Homo sapiens: one gene and its partners. The protein of the gene in region 1 purifies or fractionates together with the protein of each later gene. This does not show direct contact. Each region holds a gene or a part of one and is shown in the gene's direction. Other genes may lie near its edges.

Region 1 (4,093 bases):
TTACTCAGAGTGGCATGATCATAGCTCACTACAGCCTTGAGCTCCTGGGCTGGAGCAGTCTTCCAGCCTCAGCCTCCAGTAGCTGGGACTACAAATACACGCCATCAGGCCCAACTATTTTTTTTTTTTATTTTTTGTAGAGATAAGGTCTCACTACATTGCCCAGGCTCAGAAATTCTCATTTTTATTTTCATTGTGGAGTGGCCACTGAAGTGAGCCCCAGTTGCGAGGAAGGAAACTGACATTTCCATTAATGTGTCCCTCTGCTTCCTTGACACTCTCCAAGTGAGATTCCTGGGACCCCTATTGGTTAACAGTGCAACTTCCTGAACCCCCCTTCAGGCTTCTGTGACCAACTAAGAAATTTTACTGCTCCACTTTTGCCCAACTTTGCTCCCCAGAGATATGGATAGAGTGACTGTTGCCAGTCTCACATGATGTTAAGTTGATATTCAGGAATAAGGTAAAAGTCAAAATGTCAAAGTCCACAGTATAAGATAGAAAGGAAAGAATATTTCATTCCTAGTATCTACAGATTAAAAGGAAAGCCTAGATCTTCCACTATTAGAAGAGATGAATACCCCAGCAGTGTGGCTACTATTTGCTAATACACTAGAAAAACACTTTTCTCTCCCATTTCAGATAACGTAGAAGGAGGGACGGGTGAGAGCAATGTTAAGTGTTGGATTCCAGGCTACCCCAACAGCCACAAAGTAATTCTAGTCACAGTTTACCCCCAGCAGATTCACACAGTGAGAAATTCATAAGGCCCTATTTACACATTTCAATATTAAAGCCCCAAGAACCGGGGTCATTTGATGGTATTAATAACAGTCCTAAAGATTCTGACAGCAGTGACATTTCAGAGAAAGAAATGCCAGGGCACCCATGCATCAGCGAGATCGACATTTGATACTGCGCATTGTTGGCAATATTCAAGTGCTAATCATTCTGTTTTTGTTTTCCTTCTAACACATGCATTTTTTGAGATTGGTTTGCGTCTCTTAATCTTCAGAGCTACCTGATTTTGCTTATTACTAACTCCTTTATCATTACGAGGTCCACACCAGGGCTATTTAAATACTTGAAACGAGGAACAGTTAAACAGTCTGCTGAAACATTAGTCTAGGAGGAGATATAAGGTTACTTCCTTCAGTAACACACTCCGCTACATAGTCAGGTGAAGATTGTCTCTGTAGAGGCTTCTGGATGTGGTTGTAGGAAGCATGGACTGTGCAAGCTTGCGCTGAAGGAGGACGAGAGGATGGACCTACAACCTTGAAACAGAGTGTTTGGAAGAGCTGACCTTGGAGCAGAGCATTGCCGAGTATCTGAAAGATGTCAATGACCCTCGCTGCTGCTCGGAGACCTTGGGGATGACCTGCACCCACTAGCATGCCTGGATGGTTCAAAAAGGCGTGGTATGGGCTGGCGTCTTTACTCAGCTTCTCCTCCTTCATCCTGATCATCGTTGCCCTGGTAGTGCCCCACTGGCTGAGTGGGAAAATCCTTTGTCAGACTGGAGTGGATCTGGTCAACGCCACAGACAGAGAGCTGGTCAAGTTCATTGGGGACATTTACTACGGGCTCTTCCGAGGGTGTAAAGTGCGGCAGTGTGGGCTTGGGGGCCGCCAATCCCAATTCACGAGTGAGTATATTGGGAGCATGAAAGCTGATTCTAGGCACTCATTTTTGTTAATGTGTAAGAGTGCTTATGTCTCATTGTGGAATTTGGCTGCTGCCTCAACGTCAGGCATAATGTCAAAGTCCACAGTGAGCCAAGGGTTCTGGATCCACATCAAAAAGATCTTTCCTTCCTTCCTTGCTTCCTTTTCTTTTTCTGTAGAGATGTATAGAAACATTAGAAATAAGGATTTGTGCATTTTTGCAGTTTACCTCTATTAATTATGACTATTAAAATATTGAGAGTTTACACGTGTCAGACATTGTAAGCACCTCACGCCACTTGTCTCCTTAAAGCCTTACAACAAAGTTATACAGAAGGAATTGTTAATGTTCCCATTTTCCAGAGGAGTACACTGAGGCTTGGAGAGGTTACATAACTTACCTGAGGTCACCCAGCCAGGAAACAGTAGAGCCGGACTCCAGACCCATGCCACATGACCACAACAAGTGGGTGGAGGCTGCCTGCAGAACTGAACCTTTGGGAAGCATGATGACCCTTTCCACATCTACTTTTGTAAAAGCTTCATAGTCTGAGAAAATGCAAAGGGGCACTGTGCTTGGGTTCTGGAATCAGACTACCCTGGCTGAAACCCCTACTGGAAAGTTTACTGGTGGGGAGACCTCAAGCAAGGCACTTGCCTGTTCTCTGTGAACGTGAGCGGGCACCGACTTTGGCTGGCATTCAGTGTAGCATCAGAGCTGCCCAGGATGTAAGCAGAGCAGTCTGCACAAACAGGAATCCAAGCTGGACTTAGGAACGGGCTTCTGGAAAGGAAAAAACAAAACAGGCAATATTCTGCAAGCCTTTTGAATCGATGAGATCACTGGTGAAAAGTGTCTGCACAAAACCGTAATTAATCAATACCATGCCAATGTAGGGTGATACAGAATTGTATTCATTCCTTGATTTCTATATTTCAGTATTGTAGTAGTTTATAGAAATCTGGCCAAGGTAAATGTCGTATTAAATTTATAAGGACAAAAAGCTGGAACCGTTGACAAATATAATACAAATTGTCATCATTTAAACACACAAAAATTTACATTTGTTATGTATATTCAAGATCAATATGTCTGGGCATATTTATATTTACCTAGCAATTAGATTAGACCCTGGATATTGAACAAATAGCTCCATCAAAATTATAACATAAAACTTGAAAACACACACACATAAACAAATAAAAAAAAGAAATGCTAAAAGCTAACCATGACAACTACATGGACTACTCGATTCTGAACTAGATGCTTTGCTATAAAGGATGTCTTCGGGACTTTAGGGGTCAAGAAAACTTCCCCTTTGCACTCTGAAGGTTCTCTAAACAATCTACTGACAAAAGGCAGATTAATAGGGAAAATGGCTTACACATTTATTAGCATGCATAGGGGAAAAATCACAGAGTGATTGTCCGCTATCTCAATGGGGTACAGGTGGTTGTATCCTCTTCATCTTAGGGGAAAGAGAGATGGGGAAGTGTGGATGATTTTAGGGGACTAGTAAATTATTTTTAGGGAAATTCAATGGGCTTAAAGAACATACAGTGAGCTGGGACAAAGTCTGTTGAGCCCACAGAGCAGACATTGGTTTGTGACAAAAGTCTGTCCAGCTGTGTTAACAGACTTTAGTCTTTCTTCCTGTGATATGGGTACAATTAATGAACACTCAGGGAAGGGACCAGAGGTCTTTTTCTTTGGTAGGTCTGGATGTAGGCAGGTAAGGGAATGTCAGAGAACAACCTCATCCTGTGCTTATGAGACAGACAAAGAATGGAGAGACACGAGGGAGAGGGGAGGCCAGAGAGACCTTGAGACTTCTTCACAAAGCTTCATATTTTAGGGGTGTTGGTTTCTGAACCCCAACAGGTAAATCGTTGAAACTTGAATGGGGTGAGAAGATTAAACAGCAGTCACATGCCAGCATTAACCTAATGACCAGACCCCTGCCATTCCCAGCTCACAGAAATGTAAACTGCTTCGAGTAGGAAGCTGCAAACAAATGCATATTTTGTTTGAGCCTTGGAGGAACTCAGTAAGTACTTCTTGCCTTCCTCCTTCTTCCTTCTTAGAAGGACACCAATGGGAAACATTCCCCTGGGTTCATCTAACGTGGTCTGGTCTGGAAAGCATCAGAACCCTGTGAGAAGCATAAAGGACATTTTATTCTTGTCCCTGAGTAGGAGCGTATTTGAGAAGGTTTTGTTTCCTGCTGCCCTGGGGTTGTCTCAGAGGAGGGTCTGTAAACATCCATTCGCAGTACCTTGGATGTGATTCTCTTTCAAAGCATTCACGAGGAGCCTGGGGCCAGGTTCCTCCTGTGCTTGGCTGGCTTTACCCCAGTACAGCTCAGGGACACTGATAGTGCCAGTCTAGTCTCCTTTAGATTTACAGCTTTTAATTCTAGCACAGT
Region 2 (3,500 bases), on another chromosome or scaffold:
CAGAGACCAGCTTTGTATACTTGCAGTTATGCTGTTTGTCTTTAACTGGATGGGGTCAAAGACCAGTTATGTCCTGAGGTGTTCAGGCCTTAGGAGCTGTGAGTTCCCTTTTTTCTGCAGTGTACAGGAGAAAACTTTTAAGCAGTCAGCTTACTTGTAAAGGAACTTCATTCTCAGTATTTTTATTAATCCAGATATCACTGTGGCATTTGGTAACGCTTTTGGAAAACTGTGGCATTACACAATTAATGATATATTTTCAGCCATAATAGACATTCATGAGCTAATGCAGGCACCTATTCACTGTTTATAGCTTTGCTTATATAGCAGAAGAGATTCTACTGCCTGTGAAGAAAAGAACTTGTGTGGTATATGCATACAACAGAATATTATTCAGCAATAAAGTGAAATGAAGTTCTGATACACACTGTAACATGGATGAACCTTAAAAACATTAAATATATGAAACTAGTCACAAAAGATCACGTATTATTTCATTCATATGAGATGTCCAGAATGGGCAAATCTATAAAGACAAAAAGATAGATTAGTGGTTGCCTGGGGGGAAATGGGGAGTAACTACTGATGGATATGAAGTGTTCTTGAGGGGGACAGAAATGTTCTAAAATTGATAGTGGTGATGGTTGCCCAAGTATGTGAATATACTAAAACCTACTGAACGTTATGCTTTAAATGAATAAATTGTAGGATATGTGAATTATTAGTATATCTCCATAAAACAGTTGAAAAATAAATGAACCGAGTTTATCTCATGAAAGTCGTCCTTCTTCTCTCTGCCTTTTGCTGCAGATTCCACCAAGGTCAGCTTTTTGGTGCAGGGAGCACTTCTTCCAGGGGAGCTGGGCAGGCACACTGTTAGTCTGTGCAGCCTCTCTGTGGGCTAGAAGGACTTGTGACCTGCCTGGAAGGGCCAACAGACGTTTACCTGAGCAACAAGCTTCTCATGGCAAGGCATCTTGCCCAGAGCAAGCAAGCTAATTTACAGTTCCATGTTTTCCAGATATTTTGTTGAAACATTACTTGGGAAATAACACTTCCTGGACTGGCTAAATGATGCAGCACATTGAACAGAGTAGAATCCTGCCTCTGAGATCAGAAACTGTGGATGTATTAACTGCTTAAACCATTTTTAGGCAGTATTTTCTTCCACGTGCCATTATGGTGCATACTACTTGTGGCCTGCTTGGGTGTGATAACCCAGAATGACACCTGCATTTGTCTTTTTTTAGCAGTGTGTTTTCTACAAACTAAGATCTACTTTGTTTAGGGTTTACTCATAGTCTGAGTGAAGCTGATAACACAGCAACCCTATAATTTGTTGGTTTTGGTTTAAAATACCTTCTTCCTTCTCACCATCGTTAAGTCCTGAAAGAATGAAAGTCAAGACAATTCAGCATAATTCTCTGTACTTAGATTATACACATTTTCCATTCCAATCATTCTGCCTATGTGTTCTGTTGCATATGAAAAGTTGGTGCAGTTCTAATGGAATTTGAAGTCCCATGTACTTGGGTCCTTTGAAGGTTTTCAAGCCGTTTTGCTTGTAAGGGGCTTAAAGTTTTAGAAGTATCCTCTTGAAAATGACTGCCCTAGCAATTTCAGTATGTGTTCAGTAGGGTTGTTATGAGTGAATGGGTAGATGGCATGTTCTAGCTAGGGTGTTTGCACTTGTTTAACATTTCTGATACCTGGCACTTTGGCTCGTATTAGTACAATTTTTCAAACATGACTGCTGTGGATGGTTTGGTTCCTTATGAGTTAATGTGGATATTTTGTGAGATTTAGTGCCAGACAGGGTTACTGATACAGATTAATTGGTAATAGTAGTAATGTTGCCAAATACTGTAGTAAAAATGGGCTTTTTGCCCATTTTCAGTCTCCAGGATTATTTTAAATCTAAGGATAATTAGAGCCTATGGTTGTTCTCTATCCTCCAAAGACAATAGAGGGAGAAGATCTGTAGTTTGTATAGTTCTCATTAACTTTATTAGACCTGCTGTTCAGAGATTAGCTTTTGCCTTTGCCTGAAATTTAATCTCCAGAACTATGATTAGCTTTCTGAGACTGGTATGTGTACAGAGAGCCACTTGATATTACCATTAGTTGCTTTTGAACCTTTGTTAGAAGCTCAAAGAAATGGTGAATTCTCAGGCAGATTGCATCCTTACCACATTTCTTTCAAACTGGACCATACAGTAAAAGTGTTTCTTCACTGTAGTCTTCTCAGTGCCTCAGATTTTTTTTTTAAGTTAAAGATTTAAAAGTTTTTAGAGCCATTTTAAGTTCACAGCAAAATTGAGAGGAATGCAGAGAGATTTCCCATATACCCCTTGTCCTGACACATGAATAGCCTCCCTCCTTTTCTTTTCTTTTTTTTCCCCTTTTCTTCTTTTCTTTTCTCTTCTTGATACAGGATCTCCCTCTGTCACCCAGGCTGGAGTTCAGTGACACAATCATGGCTCACTGCAGCCTCTACCTCCCATACTCAAGTGATCCTACTGCTTCAGCCTCCTGAGTAGCTACAGGCACATCCCACCAAGTCCAGCTAATTTAAATATTTTTTTAAGAGACAGTGGTCCCACTGCATTGCCCAGGCTGGTCTTGAATTCTTGGGCTCAAGTGATCCTCCTGCCTTGGCCTCCCAAAGTGCTGGAATTATAGGAATTAACCACTGTGCCTGGCCCCTCCCCTATTTTCATTTTTTTTTCTTTTTTCTTTCTTTTCTTTTCTTTTTTTTTTTTTTTGAGACAGAGTCTCACTCTGTCACCCAGGCTGTAGTGCAGTGGTGCGATCTCAGCTCACTGCAAGCTTTGCCTCCCAGGTTCATGCCATTCTCCTGCCTCAGCCTCCCAAGTAGCTGGGACTACAGGTGCCCGCCACCACTCCTGGCTAATTTTTTGTGTTTTTAGCAGAGACGGGGCTTCACTGTGTTAGCCAGGATGGTCTCGATCTCCTGACCTCGTGATCTGCCTGCCTTGGCCTCCCAAAGTGCTGGGATTACAGGCGTGAGCCACCGTGCCCAGCCCCCTCCCCTATATTTAACATCCCCCACATAATGGTACATGTTTTACAGTTAATGAACTTACACTGACGTATTATCACCCAAAGTCCATAGTTTTACATTAGAGTTCATTCTTTGTGTTGTACATTCAGTGTGTTTGGATAAATGCATAATGACATGTATCCATCATTATTGTATAGAGTGTAGTTTCACTGCCTTAAAAATCTGTGCTCTGCTTATTTATCCTTCTGTCCCCACTGAGCCCCCAAAAGCCACTGGTCTTTATTGTCTCCATAGTTTTGCCTTTTTCTAAAATGTCATCTAGTTGGAATCACGTAGTATTTTAGGTAGCCTTTTCAAATAGGCTTCTTTCACTTAGTAATATGCATTTACGTCTCCTCTATGGCTTTTCATGGCTTAATAGCTCATTTCTTTTTAACGCTGAATAATATTTCGTTGTCTGGGTGTACCACAGTTT
Region 3 (3,500 bases), on another chromosome or scaffold:
TGAGGAATTGCCATACTGTTTTCCATAGGGGCTGTGCAATTTTACATTCCCAGCAATCCTTGGCTTAATTTTACCTGGGGGCAGGTGCCAGGAATTTATATTCGCTGTTCTGGTATGTATGAAAACGCAGCACTCCTTCCGTCAGTGCTTTAATGAGTGTGTATTAAGCACTTACTCCGTGTTTGGCAAGGGGGATTCAATAATGAGCCAGAATAGCACAGCCCCCACCTTGACAAAGCTAAGACAGCAGTGAGTGAGGCAGACGTCAATCAGGAAATCACAGAAATAGATGTTTAATGACCACACTGATCTGTGCTGTGAAGGGACGGTGCACAGTGCTACGAGAGTAAATGACAGGAGGGTGTGACCTGAAGGTCAAGGTGAGCAAGGCAGCATGTGCCTTTCCAAAAACATTCAAGAAAAGATAGTGAGGCCGGGTGCAGTGGATCACACCTGTAATCCCAGCACTTTGGGAGCCTGAGGAGGCAGGAGGATCACCTGCAGTCGGGAGTTCAAGACCAGCCTGGCCAACCTGGTGAAACCCCGTCTCTACTAAAAATACAAAAATTAGCCAGGCATGGTGGCATGCACCTGTAGTCCCCACTACTTGGGAGGCTGAGGCATGGGAATCGCTTGAACCCAGAAGACAGGATGCAGTGAGCCAAGATCGCGCCACTGCTCTCCAGCCTGGGTAACAGAGTGAGACTCTGTCTCAAGGAAAAAAAAAAAAGATAGTGACACCGGGCCAGAGAGCCTTCTGGAATCCTCTCTTCTCTGTTCCAGTCTGGACCTGTTGCTCACCAGGCCTGCTGCACAGCTGTTCTGGAATTTCTATTTACCTGCATCCTCAGTATGCCTTTTGCCTCCCTCCTCCGTGGGATTCCCTGTTTCCTAGGTCGCATGTCTTTTCGTTGGTTTCACCTCAGTCTCCTCAGTGGAGTCAGAGTTTTGCCACCTTGCCCAGGCTTGTCTCAAACTCCTGGACTCAGGCGATCCGCCTGCCTCAGCCTCCCTAAGTGCTGGGATTACAGACATGAGCCACCGTGCCTGGCCTCAATTTCTTGAGACCTTTCGTGCTTAAAGAACTTTTATTCTAACCTCCAAGCTAACAATCACTTGGCTGGTGTGTAGGAAAAACACTCAAACTGTCTTTCCTCTGCTCTTACACAACAACAATCAACCCAGAAAGCGTCTGTGACCAAATGTGTTTTTTTTTTTTCTCTTACCCACGAAGCAGTGGGCACCAGCTGGGTGTCCTGTAATTTAATTCAATTCTGATGCTGTTTTCCCGGAGATAGCTTCAGATCCCACAGTTTGAGGGTTCAGTCCCTAAGGCTGCCCAGCTTCAGACGCCCGTCGCAAGTCCAGGCCTCTGGAACTTCTGAGTGGCTGGCTTCAAGTTTGGACTCCCACGTTCCCTCTTTGGGTTTGATTAATTTGCTAGAGCAGCTCACAAAACTTAGGGAAACACATTTACTGGTTTGTTACAAAGGGTATTTTAAATGATACAAACACACAGCCAAAGGAGATGCACAGGGTGAGATCTGGAAGAGTCCCAAGCACAGGAGATTCTGTCCTTATAGAGCTGGGTGGGGTGTGCCGCCACCCCCCCAGCACGGGGACGAGTTCTTTTTTTTTTTTTTGAGATAGAGTCTTGCGCTGTCACCCAGGCTGGAGTGCAGAGGTGCAATCTCGTCTCACTGCAACCTCCACCTCCCAGTTTCACGCCATTCTCCTGCCTCAGCCTCCCAAGTAGCTGGGACTACAGGCGCCCGCCACCACGCCTGGCTAATTTTTTGTATTTTTAGTAGAGACGGGGTTTCACCATGTTAGCCAGGATGGTCTCGATCTCCTGACCTCGTGATCCGCCTGCCTCGGCCTCCTAAAGTGCTGAGATTACAGGCGTGAGCCACCGCGCCCAGCCTGGGACAAGTTCTCACTCACCTTCCTGTTAGCCTCTATGTGTTCAGCCTATCCGGAAGCCCCCAAACCCTGTCCTGTTGGGCCTTTTGTGGAGACTTCGTTGGACAGGCATGACTAAAGCAGGGACAACTGTGTCAAGATTTGATTGGGCAGAAAGGATTTGATCTCATACTAATAGACTAGGCAGGAAACCCAGCGAGGCCTGTCTGCTCCAATTCTTCTTGGCCTGTCTCTGCAGCATTCCTTCCTTCAGAGATGGGCCAGGACCCTCCCTAGAATAGGGTCTTATGACCCACAGCAGATTAGAGTCCTGCCTTGGGCAGAAGGTCAGAGAGAGAGATTCTATTTCCTAGGTCTGGGCCTGCATCTGAGGCCTGGAGCACCACAGCATTATAACAAATCCTGTGTCAAGGGCTATGGGAGTTATAAGCCAGGAACTGTGGACAAGACATTTATTTTATTTTATTTTGTTTTATTTATTTATTTTTTTGAGACAAAGTTTCACTCTGTCGCCCAGGCTGGAGTGCAGTGGGGCGATCTCAGCTCACTGCAACCTCCACCTCCTGGATTCAAGCAATTCTCCTGCCTCAGCCTCCCAAGTAGTTGGAATTACAGGCGTGTGCCAACATGCCCAGCTAATTTTTTTGTATTTTTAGTAAAGATGGGGTTTCACCATGTTGGCCAGGCTGGTCTCAAACTCCTGACCTCAAATGATCCACCTGCCTCAGCCTCCCAAAGTTCTGGGATTACAAGTGTTAGCCACCATGCCCAGCCAAAAACATTATTTTAGATAGAGATATGGAGATAGAGACATAGATATCATAATATCACATCTGGGTATAGAATTCTAGGTAGAAAATCGCTTTTCCCCAGAATTCTCCGTGACTGTCAGCTCTTAGTCTTGCCATTAAGAAGTCTGAGCCAAGGTGGGGCACAGTGGCTCATGCCTGTAATCCCAGCACATTGGGAGGCCAAGGCAGATGGATCACTTGAGGTCAGGAGTTCGAGATCAGCCTACGCAACATGGTGATACCCTATCTCTACTAAAAATACACACACACAAAAATTTAGCTAGGCATGGTGGCACACAACTGTAGTCCCAGCTACTCGGGAGGCTGAGGTACTAGAATTGCTTGAACCCAGGAGGTGGAGGTGGCAGAGCCAAGATTGTGCCACTTGCACTCCAGCCTGGGTGACAGAGTGAGACTAGGTCTCCAAAAAAAAAAAAAAAAAAAAGTCTGAGCCACTCTGATTCCCAGTTCTTTGTATGTCATTCATTTTTATTTCTTCTCTGGAAAATTTCAGTGTCTTCTTTGTTCTCAGTGTTCCGAAATTTAATAATATGCCCTGTGGGCCTTTTTCTTCTTCATTTACATTTTTGCTGCCTTGTTTCTAATTTTTAGAACTGTTTTGACCTTTCAAATGTTCCTTTTTTACAGTGTCCTGTTCTTGTTTCATGGATGCCATCTTTTCGGTCTTGAACTCCTGACCTCGGGTGATCTGCCCACCTCTGCCTCCCAAAGTGCTAGGATTACAGGTGTGAGCCACTGTACCTGGCTGATGCCATCTTTTCTTAT
Region 4 (3,500 bases), on another chromosome or scaffold:
TCCTCAGGGGTTTCTCTTCAGGAAGGTCATACTTGCAAAGCCAGCAGCCACAAAGACCTATTTAGGTTGGTGCAAAAGCAGTTGTGGTTTTTGCCTGAAAGGAATGGCAAAAACCGCAATTATTTTTGCACCAAGATAATACTTGGCACTGTGGTCAGTAAGACACTAATTTTTCCCACCTGGGGTGGCCCCGCAGATTTGCTAAATTCTTCCCCGCTAGAATGCCAGCTTGGATGAGCAGGGGCTCTATTGTATTCAACCTGGCAGCCCCAAGACCCAGAGTAATTCCTGGCTCATAATAGGTACTGGCTAAGCAGATGCTGAATTGCTGAAAGTCAACAGGTCTTGACGTGTGTGTCAAACAGGAACAATGTACAAAATAAAGCAGAGTTCGGTGGCCTTCTGGCTCTGGCCTGTGCAGCCCTAGTCCTTCTTTCCCCACATCACTTAAGAGCAGGTGGTCCTGAGTGGTTGCTGGACCTGATTCTGGAGGCCAAGACTCTGAGCCTTGAAGATTTACCTCCGGGGATTCAGAAAAGAGGAGAAAAGGAGTAATTGTATTGAACAGAGAATTAGAAGATAAGGAAAATCCCTTTGTGAGAAACTCTAAATCTTGAGCATGGATCTCTGTGTCCAGGTCCTGATGGGGAGAATAGCTGGTCCAAGAAGTACCCGTCGTGTGGGGGCCTGCTGCAGTCCCCCATAGACCTGCACAGTGACATCCTCCAGTATGACGCCAGCCTCACGCCCCTCGAGTTCCAAGGCTACAATCTGTCTGCCAACAAGCAGTTTCTCCTGACCAACAATGGCCATTCAGGTGAGGGAGAGGCCTTGGAGACCTGAGGGGTATGTCTGAGTCTCCCTCAGCTGCCAGGCCTGTCCTTTTCCATCTGGCAGGGAGGTGTTCCGTGGAAGCATCCAGGAGGAGGGGTGGGGCGGGGCGGGGGTGTCTTTGAGAGATTCCAGGAGCACTCTCTCCAGGGGATGCTGGAGGCTCTGGGCTCTGAGGATCCTGCCAGGGCCGCACTTCCCAGAAGAAGCACATCTCTCAGGATGGGGCAGGAGACCGGCCTGAGCACTGTAGTTCATTGGCTGTGCAGCTGGAGTGAATTCTGGACCATAAACGATTCAAGGAACCACACAGTTTGGCGGGGGGTGCCCAGGCTTTGGAGTCAGACCAACCTGGATTTGAACTCTGGCTTGACTGCTTACGAGCCATGAGAATCTAGGTGAGAATTTTAGTCTCCTTGAGCTTCCATCTGGAAATGGACATATTGATGGATACCGTGAAGACTGGAGATTATGTACGTTGGGGTCTGGCATACAGAGTGAAGTAAATGCTTCATAAATAGCAGTTATCGTTGCTGTTGCTATATAATTCTAAAGCTTGGAAGGTACTTCACTAAAGGTGTCTGATCCATCAATATGTAAATAAACACCCATCCGTTGGTCTAGTGTTAGCGTTTCTGGCATCACTTTCCAAGGTGAACCAAGAAGGTGCTGGTGCCACTGGAGTTGCTTTGGGGAAAAGGGAACATTCTCAGGGAAAGAGCCCAGGTGTCTGACCTTTAGGCTGCATCTCTGCTCCGCACCTCACTCCATCCACCTGCCTCTCTCTGGGCTCCAGGGGGTGGCAGCAGGGGTGGAGGGAGCATTGCCTACCTGACTGCTCTCTGGCAGTGCACAGCTGGCCGGGGCTCTGAAGGCTGCTCCTCCACTCCCCGCAGTGAAGCTGAACCTGCCCTCGGACATGCACATCCAGGGCCTCCAGTCTCGCTACAGTGCCACGCAGCTGCACCTGCACTGGGGGAACCCGAATGACCCGCACGGCTCTGAGCACACCGTCAGCGGACAGCACTTCGCCGCCGAGGTAAGTAGGGCTGCCAGTCTGGCAGAGGCTGCTCTGCAGTGGGTGGTGTGGCACCTTCTCGACCTGGCTGCTGTGCAGATAACACCAGAGCATGGGACAGGCTGCCTTCAGGCTCTCTGCCCCACCTCTGGCCCTGGCACAAGGGGCGCAGCCACTCCACTAGCCTGTAGCTCATCTGCACTGTCCTGGTCCCTTTCTTCTCCTGAACATGCTAAGTTTGTCCCTGTGTCTTTTACTGAGTGATGCTGCTGGGGAGGCAGTATTCCCAGGGTGGCCCAGTGGGACATACATGCCCTTCTTTTAGACATTGCCTTCCTATCTGTGCAGATAAAAATCTCCTGCTGACTCACACTGGGCTCACTGCTCCCCCAAACTTCTCAGCCTTTCTTCATATGTCATGCTGTTTGCATCATTTTGATGCTATCTTTCCCTCTCTGGGCATGGGTTGTGTTTAGAACATGGGGACATGGGTCTAGGGCCACCCTTCTACCTGGCCACAAGTCTAGGGGTACCTGGCAGTCTAATGTGCAGGGCATCACGGCAAGCAGACTCACTAGGGACAAGATGTCAGCCAGCACAGCATCGTGTCATGTTGCCTTGAGAAGCTACTCCGAAATGCCAAAAGAAAATTAGAAGACGGGCAGAGCATTTGTCCTATGCAATTGCAGGATGGGGTGGGGCAAGGAGGGGGTTGAGATGCTCCATTTTGGCACTCCAATAGCCCTGAACTGGGGGTGTGGCTCTGAATATTTACAGGGAAATACAAGCAGATAAATGCTGCTGACTGATCAGCCAGGGGAGTCCGTGGTAAATAGAGACCATTCCCCTCCAGTCATAACTGCTGAACTGCTTAATGTTTCAGACTAATCATAGGTCTACTTGCAAGCATGGAAGGGATAGGATCTGGTTCAATAGGATGGTACCACTGGAGGTTCACATATTTCAGAGCGGCCCTTCCCTGAAGCTCAAGAACTGAAATTTCCTCCAGGCTAATTGCAGTGTTGAGACTTCTGCTTCCCCCATGGGGAATAAAGAAGGTGTAAACCAAAAAGTGTCTGAGACTCAATCCATTTAGAAGTTTATTTTGCCAAGGTTAAGGACACATGCCCGGGAGACAGGGAGACAAGTCTGTGCCTTTCTACAAAGATGATTTTGAGGGCTTCAATATTTAAAGGGGAAAGGGCAGACACTGGGGAAAGAGGGAGAAATGTTTAAAAGGTGTGGGGAGGTAAGAGGCAAGAGGTCGCATTCTTCTGAGTTTTTGATCAGCCGTTCACATGTGAGAGAGGGGTAGAGGAATAGTCACTTGTGCATTCATCTAGCTCAGCGAATCTGCATTCTTACAAAATAAAACAGACATGGGCAGAGGAAGCAATTAGAAATGCATTTGTCTCAGGTGAGCAGAGGGATGACTTTGAGTTCTATCCTTTGTCCTGAACCCATGAAGATAAGTTATCCATTTACATTGTCACGGTGAAATTCAACAGAACTGTTTTAGGGTAAAGACCTTGCGGCCCACAGTGAATTTCCTAGTGGGCAAAATGTGAGGTGTGTTGCTTTTTTATCTTTGTAGCCGTCTTATTTAGGAATAGAATGGGAGGCAGCTCCCAGCTTGACTTTTCTCTTTGGC

What was found. The genes of interacting proteins can lie anywhere in the genome.
Region 2: the proteins of CLRN2 (region 1) and DIPK1A purify together in Homo sapiens (affinity purification with mass spectrometry; one large-scale study listed by BioGRID and IntAct). This does not show direct contact.
Region 3: the proteins of CLRN2 (region 1) and KLRG2 purify together in Homo sapiens (affinity purification with mass spectrometry; one large-scale study listed by BioGRID and IntAct). This does not show direct contact.
Region 4: the proteins of CLRN2 (region 1) and CA12 purify together in Homo sapiens (affinity purification with mass spectrometry; one large-scale study listed by BioGRID and IntAct). This does not show direct contact.

The regions. Positions count from the first base shown.
Region 1 is NC_000004.12:17,513,872-17,517,964, forward strand, and holds the start of CLRN2 (clarin-2), read left to right. Parts: upstream 1-1,293; 5' UTR 1,294-1,395; coding exon 1,396-1,648; intron 1,649-4,093. UniProt on the Homo sapiens protein: Plays a key role to hearing function. Required for normal organization and maintenance of the stereocilia bundle and for mechano-electrical transduction.
Region 2 is NC_000001.11:92,954,963-92,958,462, reverse strand, and holds part of DIPK1A (divergent protein kinase domain 1A), read left to right. Parts: intron 1-3,500.
Region 3 is NC_000007.14:139,473,674-139,477,173, reverse strand, and holds part of KLRG2 (killer cell lectin-like receptor subfamily G member 2), read left to right. Parts: intron 1-3,362; coding exon of another isoform or gene 3,363-3,404; exon of another isoform or gene 3,405-3,500.
Region 4 is NC_000015.10:63,343,847-63,347,346, reverse strand, and holds part of CA12 (carbonic anhydrase 12 isoform 1 precursor), read left to right. Parts: intron 1-637; coding exon 638-817; intron 818-1,680; exon of another isoform or gene 1,681-1,727; coding exon 1,728-1,870; intron 1,871-2,936; exon of another isoform or gene 2,937-3,209; intron 3,210-3,500. UniProt on the Homo sapiens protein: Reversible hydration of carbon dioxide.